Linked DNA regions of Homo sapiens: region 1 is linked to region 2. Evidence: fine-mapped expression QTL. A gene starts in region 2. The other region holds a variant in brackets. All regions are shown on one strand. Distances are between the middles of the regions. Region 1 overlaps GALNS (galactosamine (N-acetyl)-6-sulfatase). Region 2 holds the start of APRT (adenine phosphoribosyltransferase).

Region 1 (5,362 bases), 31 kb after region 2:
CAAGGGCTTCCTGGAGGAGGCGGCATGCGGACCTGACAGGCGGGGAACGCTCCAACAAGTGGAGAGAAATTCGGGACAGGTGACTCCTACCCAACCCTCTAGGCTCACTCAGGCGTCCCAGGGAGTAAAAGAAATGAAACATCCTGTGCGCCTAAAACCGCAGCGTGGGGGCTGTGTAGCACCCAAGCTCTCATCAGCTCAGGATTTCATCAACTGCTAGGCTGTTACTCTCCTTCCTGGTGGCTTCTTTGTGGTTTAGACCAGAGCTTTCACCATCCAACAGGCCCCTAGGGTGGACAGGCAGCTCCTCCGCCACAGCTCCTGTGTGTAATGACGTGGCCCCTCCAAGGACGACGTGGCAGGAGGCAGCCGGGGGGCAGTGGTGGCGGGTGCTAGGGGCTGTGACTCGAGGGATGACGGTGACAGGCCTGCGGAGTCTGATGCCGCAGGATACTCGCGGCCGTGGGACCAGCCTGGTGACCTGAGATCCTGCTGGCAAGGTCACGCTGGCCTGCACAGGGACGCTGGAGACACCTGAACACACCCAGAATCAGCTGCCGTTTCCCACCCAAGACACCCTCCTCATTTGGAAACTTGTGGCCATGTCCCTTGGAACCAAGGCCAGGAAGTGGATGGAGCAGGACGCCTGGGCAGGCGTGGCCAGGAGACTTACCACTTGCCGACAATCTTGCTGACGTAGCCGGCCTTCTTCAGAAGCTCCGGCAGGAGCTGCTCCGAGTCTGGGATGCCGCCCACAATCTCCTGCGGTGTGTAGGCTGGAAGAGCAGCGCTGGGTGAGCCCCGAGGAGACCCCGAGAAGCTGCCACCAACCCCATCCTAACAGGACACTGGGGGCTGCGTCCACACATCCTAACAGGACACTGGCCCCTCGGGGTCAAAGGCTGTGCCTGGGGGCTGCGCGTCCACAGGGCATGGCACTTCCCAAGATTTTTCCAGGCACCCCTCAGAGCCAGTGCCATCACCAGAGGGTGGGGACGGGGCAGACTCCGTGCCCCCCAGCGCCTTCCTTGGGACTCCTGCCCACCCTCAGGCCCCACCCTGCCTCTCAGGCCAGCCTCCCACCTGCCTGGTCTCCAGGGGTCTCTGGAATATGCCACGTGATGCTGCACTGCCCCACCCCTGCCTCCCCCGTCCTTCCCTTTCCTCAAATGCCACTGGAAATCCCACTTCCCCTGTGAGATGCCCCTGGGGAGCCCATCCAAACCCCTCAAGCACAGCGATTCCAGAACATTCCAGAACTGCCGCTGATGCCACAGCCCCGGCCTCCCTGTGGGTGTGCGGCTCACCCGCCTGGGGAGTGGGAGCTTCTGGGGTGGGGGTGCCGGCTCAGCTCCTTAGGCCAGACTGGGCACCCTCCGCTCAGTCCCCACTGGGCCAGGGCAGGGAAGGAAGCCAGCTAGGGGGGCCTGCACTTCCACCTAAGTCCCAGAGACCCAGGCACCAGCGGTACCCCACCTGCAGCTTGCCACCCGAGTCCCGGAGACACGGGCACCACCCGTAGCCCACCTGCCCAACCCTGCACCCCAAGGGTGTCCCTGGAGGCGGTGGGCAGCCTACCGTTTCTGGCATGGGCGTTGGTGGTGTAGAAGCCATTGCGGATGGGTAGCCGTCCTGTGAGCAGTGCCGCCCTCGCTATGTGGAGGTGACAGAAACAGAAACTGGATAAGAAGGGTGTGGCTCAGACCCCGGGCGTCAACAAGAGCCCCAACGAGTAGACAGACGCGTGACAGACGAGGCACGCGCAGGTTTACAAGGGGCTGCCACGCCTGTCAATCCCCGTTAGCGTCTCCACCACCTGGGTGGGGCACGGCACCCATTCCACTGAAAGACGCGTGGCCCTTGGGCCCTGCAGCTCAGCGTTGTCCCCAAGACCCCGCCTCCTTTCGCAGGCTCCTGGGACACCCACTGGGCGTGCAGGTCCACACGCCCCCATCCTCGAGCACCAGCCCCGTGCCCTGCCTTCTCCTCTTCCTCACGATCAACACCACATGTTTCTGTCTCCAGCAGGAGAGACTCTCCCCAGGGAGGGAGGGAGTGGGACTCCTGCTTCCCAGGTACCCTGAGACGGAGCCACACTGCAGCACCTCTCCCCAGGCGGCCACAGCACTCGACTCTGGGAAACAGAACAGCAGCCACCAACAATACCGCAACTTCGACCCTGAAAACCCAGCAGGTGCCGCACCCCACATGGCACGGAGCCGGGCTGGGATTTGATGAGAAAGGCCTGAGCCCACCTGCCACCCTCCCTGCAGTAGTAGGAATAGACAAGGTTGATGCAGCCGCCCAGAGTCAGGGCTGGAAGGACCCGGGAGGCCTCGGCCTGTTGGGCTCACCCCTTCCTGGGGGCGAGGGCCCCGCTGACTTACATGGCGAGCACAGAGGGTTGGCAGAATAGAAGTTTGGGAAAAGCA[G/T]CCCTTCTGCAGCCATCCGGTCCAAATTCGGGGTCTCTCTGGAGGGCTCTCCATACACCCCGAGGTCACCCCATCCCATCTGCAGGGAAGAGCACGGGGAGGAGGAATGAGCGCCTTCTGCAGGTGCTTCTGGCCTGGGGAGCTGCCCATGGTGCCAAGAGCGTGTCGGGGACCGTGGAAGCCAGCACCACCCTGTGTCCCAGCCAGCGGCAGAGCTCGGCCAAACCCCAGCATCGCCTGCGTGCGTGCACGATGGGGCCGCTCCACGCCAGCCCAAACCTCAGCATCGCCTGCGTGCGTGCACGATGGGGCCGCTCCACGGTCAGCCCACGCTGTCTTTCGCCTCCACTTCTGCTTGGTCTTCAGGTGGGGAATGTGTCCGTCTGCCTCCTCCCAGCCTGACACCAGCATCTGCATGCTCGCAGGAGCTGGCCTCTAAACACGTGCATCTATTTTCAACATAAATACACAGGCCCTCGTATGTCTGTACACGTCTAGATTTCAAAGTCAACTGGTAACTGTCCCCCAGAAGCCCAGTTATCGTGTGACCCTGCAGTTCCACGCTGCAACTCCACTCCTAGCTGTACACCCAAGAGACTGAAACTTACGTCCACACGCAGGCCTGCATACGAGCGTCCAGGGCAGCACGACTCAGTGGCCAAAAGGCAGGAGCACCCTGAGCGCCCATCGGCAGACGACAAAGTGCGGCCGGCGTGTACTACGTGGGTGTGGCCACATTTGGAAGTAGGGTCTCTGCAGATGTAGTGAGCTAAGATGAGGTCACGCTGGGCCAGGGTGGGCCCTCAATCCTATGACTGGGCCCTTAGAGACGCAGACATGCAGTAGAGATGCCGGGTGAAGGCCGAGGCCGAGACTGGAGTGACGCAGCCACCAGCCAGGGGACAGCAAGGACCTTCCTGGAGAGCCTGAGGGGGAGGGGCCCGGCTGACACCTTGATTTTGCACTTCTGGCCTCCAGAATCCGGCAAGAATCCATTTCCGCTAAGGCCACCTGGCCTGTGGTAACGTGTTATGTCTCAGGAAACTCACGCACGTACCGCGGCACACTACCCAACCATCGAAAGGAAGGGCACCCCACACCGCGCACGGCCCTGGAAAGCTTCATGTGAGGGAAGGAAGCAGACACAAGGGCCACACAGGCTGTGATTTGCTCATTAAGCCTCCGGAACAGGCCGGTCCGCAGAGGCAGGAGGCGGCTGAGTGGCTGCCGGGGCTGGGGGTGGGTGCTGGGGAGGGCCTGCTGATGAGTACCGGTTTCTTCTTGGGATGGACTGTTTGGAAGCAGGTAGAAGGGATGGAGGCACCACGCTGTGAATGGACTGTGCCCGAGTGGTGCACGTTAAGGTGGCTGTCATGGTCAATTTTACGTTCTGTGTATTTTACAATAAAAACCCCAAGCAGGAGGACGGGTGAGCACAGGGCAGGAAGCACGGAGGCTGGGGTGATGCCAGGAGGCCGGGGTGATGCCAGGTGTGATGGCACCAGCACAGCAAATGCCCACGGCAAACTCCGGAGGTGAGTGGCAGCGGCGGTGTTCACTGAAAACTTCTTCAAATTTTACAGTGTGTATTGTTGGAAAAAAGTGCTTTTAAACAGGCAGTGGGCCAGGACTTTGCTCTAGAAGGAGAAGGGGAGGGCACCGCCTGGGGCTTTGGCTCTCCTCGGATCCTCCAGCCGTCTCCCTGAGCGCCCACCTCAGCAGGAGCCTGGTAGAAGCCAACACTCCGAGGCCCCTCTGTCTGGCCTGTCTTCCTTCCTTAAGGACATATTCCCTCCTGAGGTGCTCCAAGCACCAACCAAGACACCAGTGAAGTGACTGTGCCTGCCTGGGCCCCTGCCCTCTACAGGCCGCCTTCAGCAGCTTCGGCAGCACAAACACACAACACCTGGGAAAGACAACACATTCTAAACACAACGACCAAGTTCACAGGCCCAGCTGAATTCAACCACCACGTTCACAGGCCCAGCTGCATTCAACGCATATTTATTTCTGAAACCAATCTGAATGCAAATATGGATATTTAGAGCTGGCATCAGCAAATGCATTATGTAAAGGGCCTCACAGCAAATCCTTTCAGCTTTGTGGGCCATATGGGGCTGTCACAGCCCCTCAGCCCTGCCACAAGCCAGCATGCGAGCAGATGTGCACGCTCTGTGCCAATAAAACTTTATTCATCAACATCTGAATTTCATATAATTTTTCATGTCACAAAATATTACTCTTTTGGTTTTTTGAACAATTTAAAATTATAAAACCCATGCCTGGCTTATGGGTTTAAAAAACGGCAGGTGGTGGGCCGGGCTCGGTGGCTCACGCCTGTAATCCCAGCACCGTGGGAGGCCGAGGCGGGCGGATCACCAGGTCAGGAGATCGAGACCATCCTGGCTAACATGGTGAAACCCCGCCTCTACTAAAAATACAAAAAATTAGCCAGGCATGGTGGTGGGCACCTGTAGTCCCGGCTACTCGGAGTACAGTAGCCGGCAGGAGAATCGCTTGAACCTGGGAGGCGGAGGTTGCAGTGAGCCAAGATTGTACCACTGCACTCCAGCCTGGGCAACAGAGGGAGACTCCGTCCCAAAACCACAACAACAACAAAACCCAGCAGGTGGTTCACATTTGACCCATGGGCTGGAGTTGGCCAACCTCTGTCTTAGTGAAAGTGCAGCTACCCTATCTTAAAAGGCAATCATGGGGCTGGGTGCGGTGGCTCACGCCTGTAATCCTAGTACTTTGGGAGGCCGAGGTAGGCGGATCACAAGGTTAGGAGTTCGAGACCAGCCTGGCCAATATGATGAAACCCAGTCTCTACTAAAAACACAAGAATTAGCTGGGCATGGTGGCGGGCACCTGTACCAGCTACTTGGGAGGCTGAGGCAGGAGAATCGCTTCAACCCGGGAGGCGGAGG
Region 2 (5,318 bases):
GGGCTGGGAGGCCCTGTGGTCACTCATACTGCAGGAGAGAGAAGAAGGGTACAGGTGCCAGCTTCTCCCTGCCCTTAAGCGAGGTCAGCTCCACCAGGCTCACGCACTCCAGGACCTCAGCCTGCAGGCGGCCCAGCAGCTCACAGGCAGCGTTCATGGTTCCTGGGGATGGGAGGGTGAGGTCCCCAGTTGGCCTGGGCTGCAGAGAGCAGGTGCTCCAGGCCAGCCCCTGGGTTGGGGAGGGGAAGGCATGGGGAGAGGAAGGTGTCGGCCTGGCCACCAGGCACCCTCTGGACAACAGTAAGCTGCATCCCATGTCACACAGCGAGGTCCTGTCCCACTCCCACCAGGCCCTTGGAGCCACAGCAGTTGGCTGCGGGGAGACCCTTACCACCAGTGGCCAGCAGATCATCCACGACGACCACCCTCTGTCCTGGCTCCAGGGCGTCTTTCTGAATCTCCAGCTCAGCCTGGAGTGGGAAGTGGTGTGTGGTCCTCAGCCTCCCGCAGAAAACAGCTTTGTTGCACAGCTTGGCAGCTGCCACCCTAGACCCTGACTCCAACCCCACCTTGCTGTTACCTGGCTGTGTGAGCCCAGCCTATGTCTCAACCTCTCTGAGCTCCCAAGGCCACTGTAACCACAGCAGCTCCACTTGACACGCCTGGGAAGGCCTTTTAGAACTGGGGGAGAGTGGCCACGGTGGCCTGGCCCTGCCCTTCCTCTGGCCACCCCAGCCCTCTTACCTTCCCGTACTCCAGGGAATAGGAGGCCCACAGAGTGGGGCCTGGCAGCTTCCCCCGCTTTCGGATGAGCACGCAGCCCAGTCCAAGCTCCTGGGCCAGGGAGGGGCCAAAGAGGAAGCCTCGGGAGTCTAGGCCTGTCAGGGTAAGTGACAGGAGTGACTCGGCAGCATGGGAATCCCCAGGGGCCAGGGTTGGCCGGTGGCAAGGGGTACCTGGTTGGCTCCCAGCTGAAAGGCCAGTGACATGCACCATTTAAGGAATGTTACCCATCACCTACCCGGAGCTGCTTCCAGGTCAGAGTGCAGACCTGGGTCTGTCTTTTAAGGGACCACTTCTTAGCTGTGTGTTCCTAGGGGAGTCACCACCCCTCTCTCTGAGCTGAGCAGCCCATCTGTAACTGGGCTGGTAGAAACCTGACAGGCCTCAGCTTACTCTCAAAGGCAGCTCTGCACCAGGGCTTCTGTCTAAAAAGGGAGTCTCTCGAGGTGGCCTGAGCTGTGATGGTTGGGGGACGCTCAGGGAAACCCTGCCCCGGCCTGGCAGGAGGTCAGGGAGGGCTTCCTGCAGGAGGTGAGAAGGGAGCTCTGGCAGTGTTGTGGCTCCAGCAAGAGCTGGCGCTTTCCTCAGGGCAGTGTCCAGGGAGTGGGCTGTCACACCCTAGGAGAGGCAAGACGGCCAGGAACACTCTGTTCTCCCTGGGCCACCTCTTGGGCTCTCCCGGAGGCCTCCAGGCCTCCCTTCCCTGGGTGGGCATTCCGTGATCTTCACCAGGGAAGGCCTGGCTCGTGGCAGGCGCTCAATACCAGCTCGCAGAAGGAACAAGAAGCAAGGCAGCTGGGCCCTGTGGATTCAGCTTGGGCACTCCAGGGAGACCAACTGACCCGGCAACTCGGTCACGCCTGTCCTGGGCTGGGGACCCGGAACCTGCGGGAAGGACGCCTGCACAGCGCGGCGGCCTCGGGGGCTCAATCTCACAACCCTTCCCGGGCGACCCAAGCACGGCGCCCGTCCCGGCGCCCCCTGAAGCACCCCAAAGGCCCTCCCCCAAGCAGACGCGCAGAGCCCACGTGCTGCCCTCGGCGCGCGCAGAGGCGGAAGCGCCCTAGATGCGGCCACTGGGCACTCGCCTGCGATGTAGTCGATGCGGCCCCCGTGGGTCGCCTTCAGGTGTCGCGCCAGGAGGCCGATGGCGGCGCGGAAGGAGGCGGGGTCCTTCAGGACGGGCGAGATGTCCCTGGACCCAAGGACAGGCCTGGTGACGCCGGGGCCGAAGGAGGGCAGGGCCCCGGGGGCGAAAGACGAGGGTTCCCGCCCCGCCCGCCCGGAGGTCGCGGGCCACGCGCTCCCATCCGTAGGCCCGCAGGTCGGGGCGCCACGAGGGCGGCCTGTGCGTGCACCTGAATACCACGCCTGGGGTGGGGAAGTCGGGGAAGCTGCGGATCCGCTGCTCAACCAGCTGCAGCTCGGAGTCGGCCATGGCCGCGTGCGAAGAGCCAGCGGCAGCCCGAGCGCGCCTGCGCGGGGACGGGCGGGACCGCCACGAGGGGTGGGGCATCCCCGGAGGGCGGAGCGTGGGTGAGGGGCGGGGCATCCGTCGCCGGAAGCCTGTACCGTATTTCATGGACTCCTAGGCGCCATCGATTTTAAGACGCGCTCGCATTCCACGCACCACTGAGCAGAACGTTCGAACCGGACAAAAGTGCGAGTCAAGGCGCCCTTCCTTGTCTCGGGCTACGCTTCTGACTGCAGCCAGGCAGCTGTGGGCCGGGGCCTTGGCGGCTGGAGGAGGGGCGTGAGCTGGTCTCGCCCACGCACCTGGCGCGCGTACGGGCCGCGCCCTTTCTCCTTTATTGGCCGAGATCCCCACGCTGCGCGCGGGAGGCTGGCGCGCGGGGTGGAGAAGGGCGTGAGGAAGCGGTCCAAGTAGCAGGAGGGCGGTGCAGGGCCCGGAGGGAGCAGCCCAGGGCGGAGGCGGCGGGCCTGGGCTGGACCGGCCGGGGGCGCTGGCCTCTCGCGGATGGGCCCTGCCGTTGAGGCGGCTCTTCCCCGCCCGGACCCGGGGGAGGGAGGCCGGAAGGTGTGGCCAGGCCAGGGCGCGCATCCGCGAGGGCAGAAGCCCTTCTGTCCGCCTGCAGAGGCCAGGTGACCCCTTAGCCTTGGGGTGGGGAGCTGTGAACCCCCTGGCCGCCCGAGGACTGGTACCCAGGGGGTTGTGTGAGGCATAACTCCCCCCAAACACAATTTCCTTTCAAGAAAATCCCCAGAGCTAAAATGCCTTGTGCTCTATTCCAAGACTTTTCTTCATTTCGCAACTTTTTTTTGAGAAGGACTCTCGCTCTGTCGCCCAGGATGGAGCACAGTGGCGCCATCTGGGCTCACTGCAAGCTCCACCTCCTGGGTTCCGGCCATTCTCCCGCCTCAGCCTCCCGAGTAGCTGGGACTACAGGAGCCCGCCACCACGCCCTGCTAATTTTTTGTATTTTTAGTAGAGACGCAGTTTCACTGTGTTAGCCAGGATGGTCTCGATCTCCTGACCCCGTGATCTGCCCGCTTCGGCCTCCCAAAGTGCCGGGATTACAGGCGTGAGCCACCGCGCCCGGCCCATCATTTCGCAACTTTTACAATTCAGCTTTGGCCTGGCAGTTACTGCAGAAGGGAAAACCCACTCAGTGGAAGGCAGCCCCCAGGAGCCTTCGGAGGGGGAGGCCGGAGGCTGCATGCGGCTGCTGGGGCCCCGGTTCCAGGGCGGGTGGGGGACCCATCGTCTGATGCCAAGGGGCGTGGTAGGGGCGGCTGCCTCGCAGTGTGCGGTGGTCAGGGCTGGCAAGGCCTGGGGCCTGGGCTCCAGACCCCTAGGGAAGGTGGAAATGGAGGACCCTGACATCCTCACGTCCCCGGGGAAGCTGCCACATGAGCCGGCCCCACCGGTCCAAGTGTGTGAGCTACACTTCAGCCGTCCACGTCCAGCCCAGGAGGCCTCCGCCTTCCCCTTCCTTGTTCCTGATTCTGTCTCCCAGATGGCCCGAGGGGGGCCTGGGAAGGCGTGGGGTGGGGGGGTACTGGAGGAGGGGCCTGGGGAGGGTTCAACACAGAATTGGCCCTGTGGCTTCCTTCAACCCGGGCTGTTGGGCTGGCGTGGGAACAGCAAGGAGCCCCGAGTCCTGCCCTTCAACAACCAATGTGGCGCTGGCCTCTGGAGGAGGCCGGCCGGGAGGCAGCGGGAGCTGGGCACCTGATTCTTGGCAGCTGCTGAGAAGGTGTGAAAGGAAAATAAATCTCCGGACCCCAAAATCACTCAGCCAAGAGAAAAATCAAGCTGGGAATTAGGCAAACCTGCCTCCCGTTTTATTTCTAAATAACATAGTTACAATGATAAGAAGCTACACGCCTCCCTCATAATTAGCGTCCAGGGAAATTCCTTGTGGACAAAGGACAGACGGAACTGGAAGTCATCCCTCTGGGGCTCCCCTGAGACAAACGCTTATATGATTGCCCCGTTCCCTTACTGTTTACATAAAAATGCGGATTCACTGGGCCAGACTCAATCGTGTATTCAGTGGAAGGCTGACTGAACCAATGTACGCCATACACATACTGATCTTGTGTCTCCCTAAGATGTATAAAGGCAAACTGTATCCCCAGCCACCTCAGGCACCTGTTGTCAGGACCTCCTGAGGCTGTCACAGGTGCATCCTTAACCTTGGCAAAATAAACTGAGACTGGTCTCAGATATTTGGGGTTCACAAAGGCGTGAGACGGCAGGGTCCTGAGGTCTGAGGCGCCGTGGGCGAGGAGGAGGGTCCTGAAATCTGAGGCGCCGTGGGCGAGGAGGAGGGCCAAGCACACGCCAGGGTCAGGTCCTGGGCAGGTGGAATTGTGCAGTCCCCCTGCGTCTGCAGGTGCTGTCTGTCTGGCTTGGGCAGGGTTGGGGGAGGACCGAGGCCAGAGCCATCCTTCCTCCAGGCACTTGCAGGGCCAACCGGAGATTCTAGGCCTGGCCTGAGTCTGCGCAGGTGCTAGTGGGACCAGAGGCACTTCTTGGGAATGGATTCTGGAGGTGTCAGACACTTCCCTAACTTTTCACAGCCCGGAGGTGCCCAGTTCTGGGAAATGAAAATTGAGAAAAAGAACATGCAGTTATTCAAGCTCTTCTGGACCCAGCAGCAGCGGGCATTTTGTTGTTGCTGTTCTGAGACAGTCTCACTCTGTCACCCAGGCTGGAGTTCAGTGGCGCGATCTTGGCTCACTGCAACCTCTGCCTTCCGGGTTCAAGAGATTCTCCTGCCTCAGCCTCCTGAGTGAGTAGCTGCTGGGATTACAGGCACGCGCCACCACGCCTGGCTAATTTTTGTATTTTTAGTAGAGACGGAGTTTCACCATCTTGACCAGGCTGGTCTTGAACTCCTGACCTCGTGATCCACCTGCCTTGGCCTCCCAAGGTGCTGGGATTACAGGTGTGAGCCACCACGCCCAACCATTTTTGTATTTTTGGTAGAGACAAGGGTTCCCCAAGTTGGCCAGGCTGGTCTCAAACTTCTGACCTCAGGTGATCCACCTGCCTTGGCCTCCCAAAG

The links.
Region 1: its variant is fine-mapped to the expression of APRT in transverse colon (GTEx, PIP above 0.99).

Annotation. Positions count from the first base shown.
Region 1 is chr16:88,840,319-88,845,680 of GRCh38, forward strand. GALNS (galactosamine (N-acetyl)-6-sulfatase) reads right to left here. Exons shown (of 14, transcript NM_000512.5): 2 at 2,388-2,511; 3 at 1,579-1,653; 4 at 674-776. Among named protein-coding and RNA genes, the nearest start is that of GALNS, 14 kb to the right of the region's middle. The variant G/T (reference allele first, on the strand shown) is at 2,433.
Region 2 is chr16:88,809,679-88,814,996 of GRCh38, forward strand. APRT (adenine phosphoribosyltransferase) reads right to left here and starts at 2,250. Exons shown (of 5, transcript NM_000485.3): 1 at 2,142-2,250; 2 at 1,872-1,978; 3 at 745-878; 4 at 392-470; 5 at 1-162. The coding sequence starts at 2,221. The coding sequence ends at 20. It overlaps GALNS (galactosamine (N-acetyl)-6-sulfatase), which reads right to left. Exons shown (of 14, transcript NM_000512.5): 14 at 4,056-4,847. The coding sequence ends at 4,761. RefSeq lists enhancers at 584-1,119, 2,625-3,309, 3,310-3,993 and silencers at 2,003-2,402, 2,653-2,912.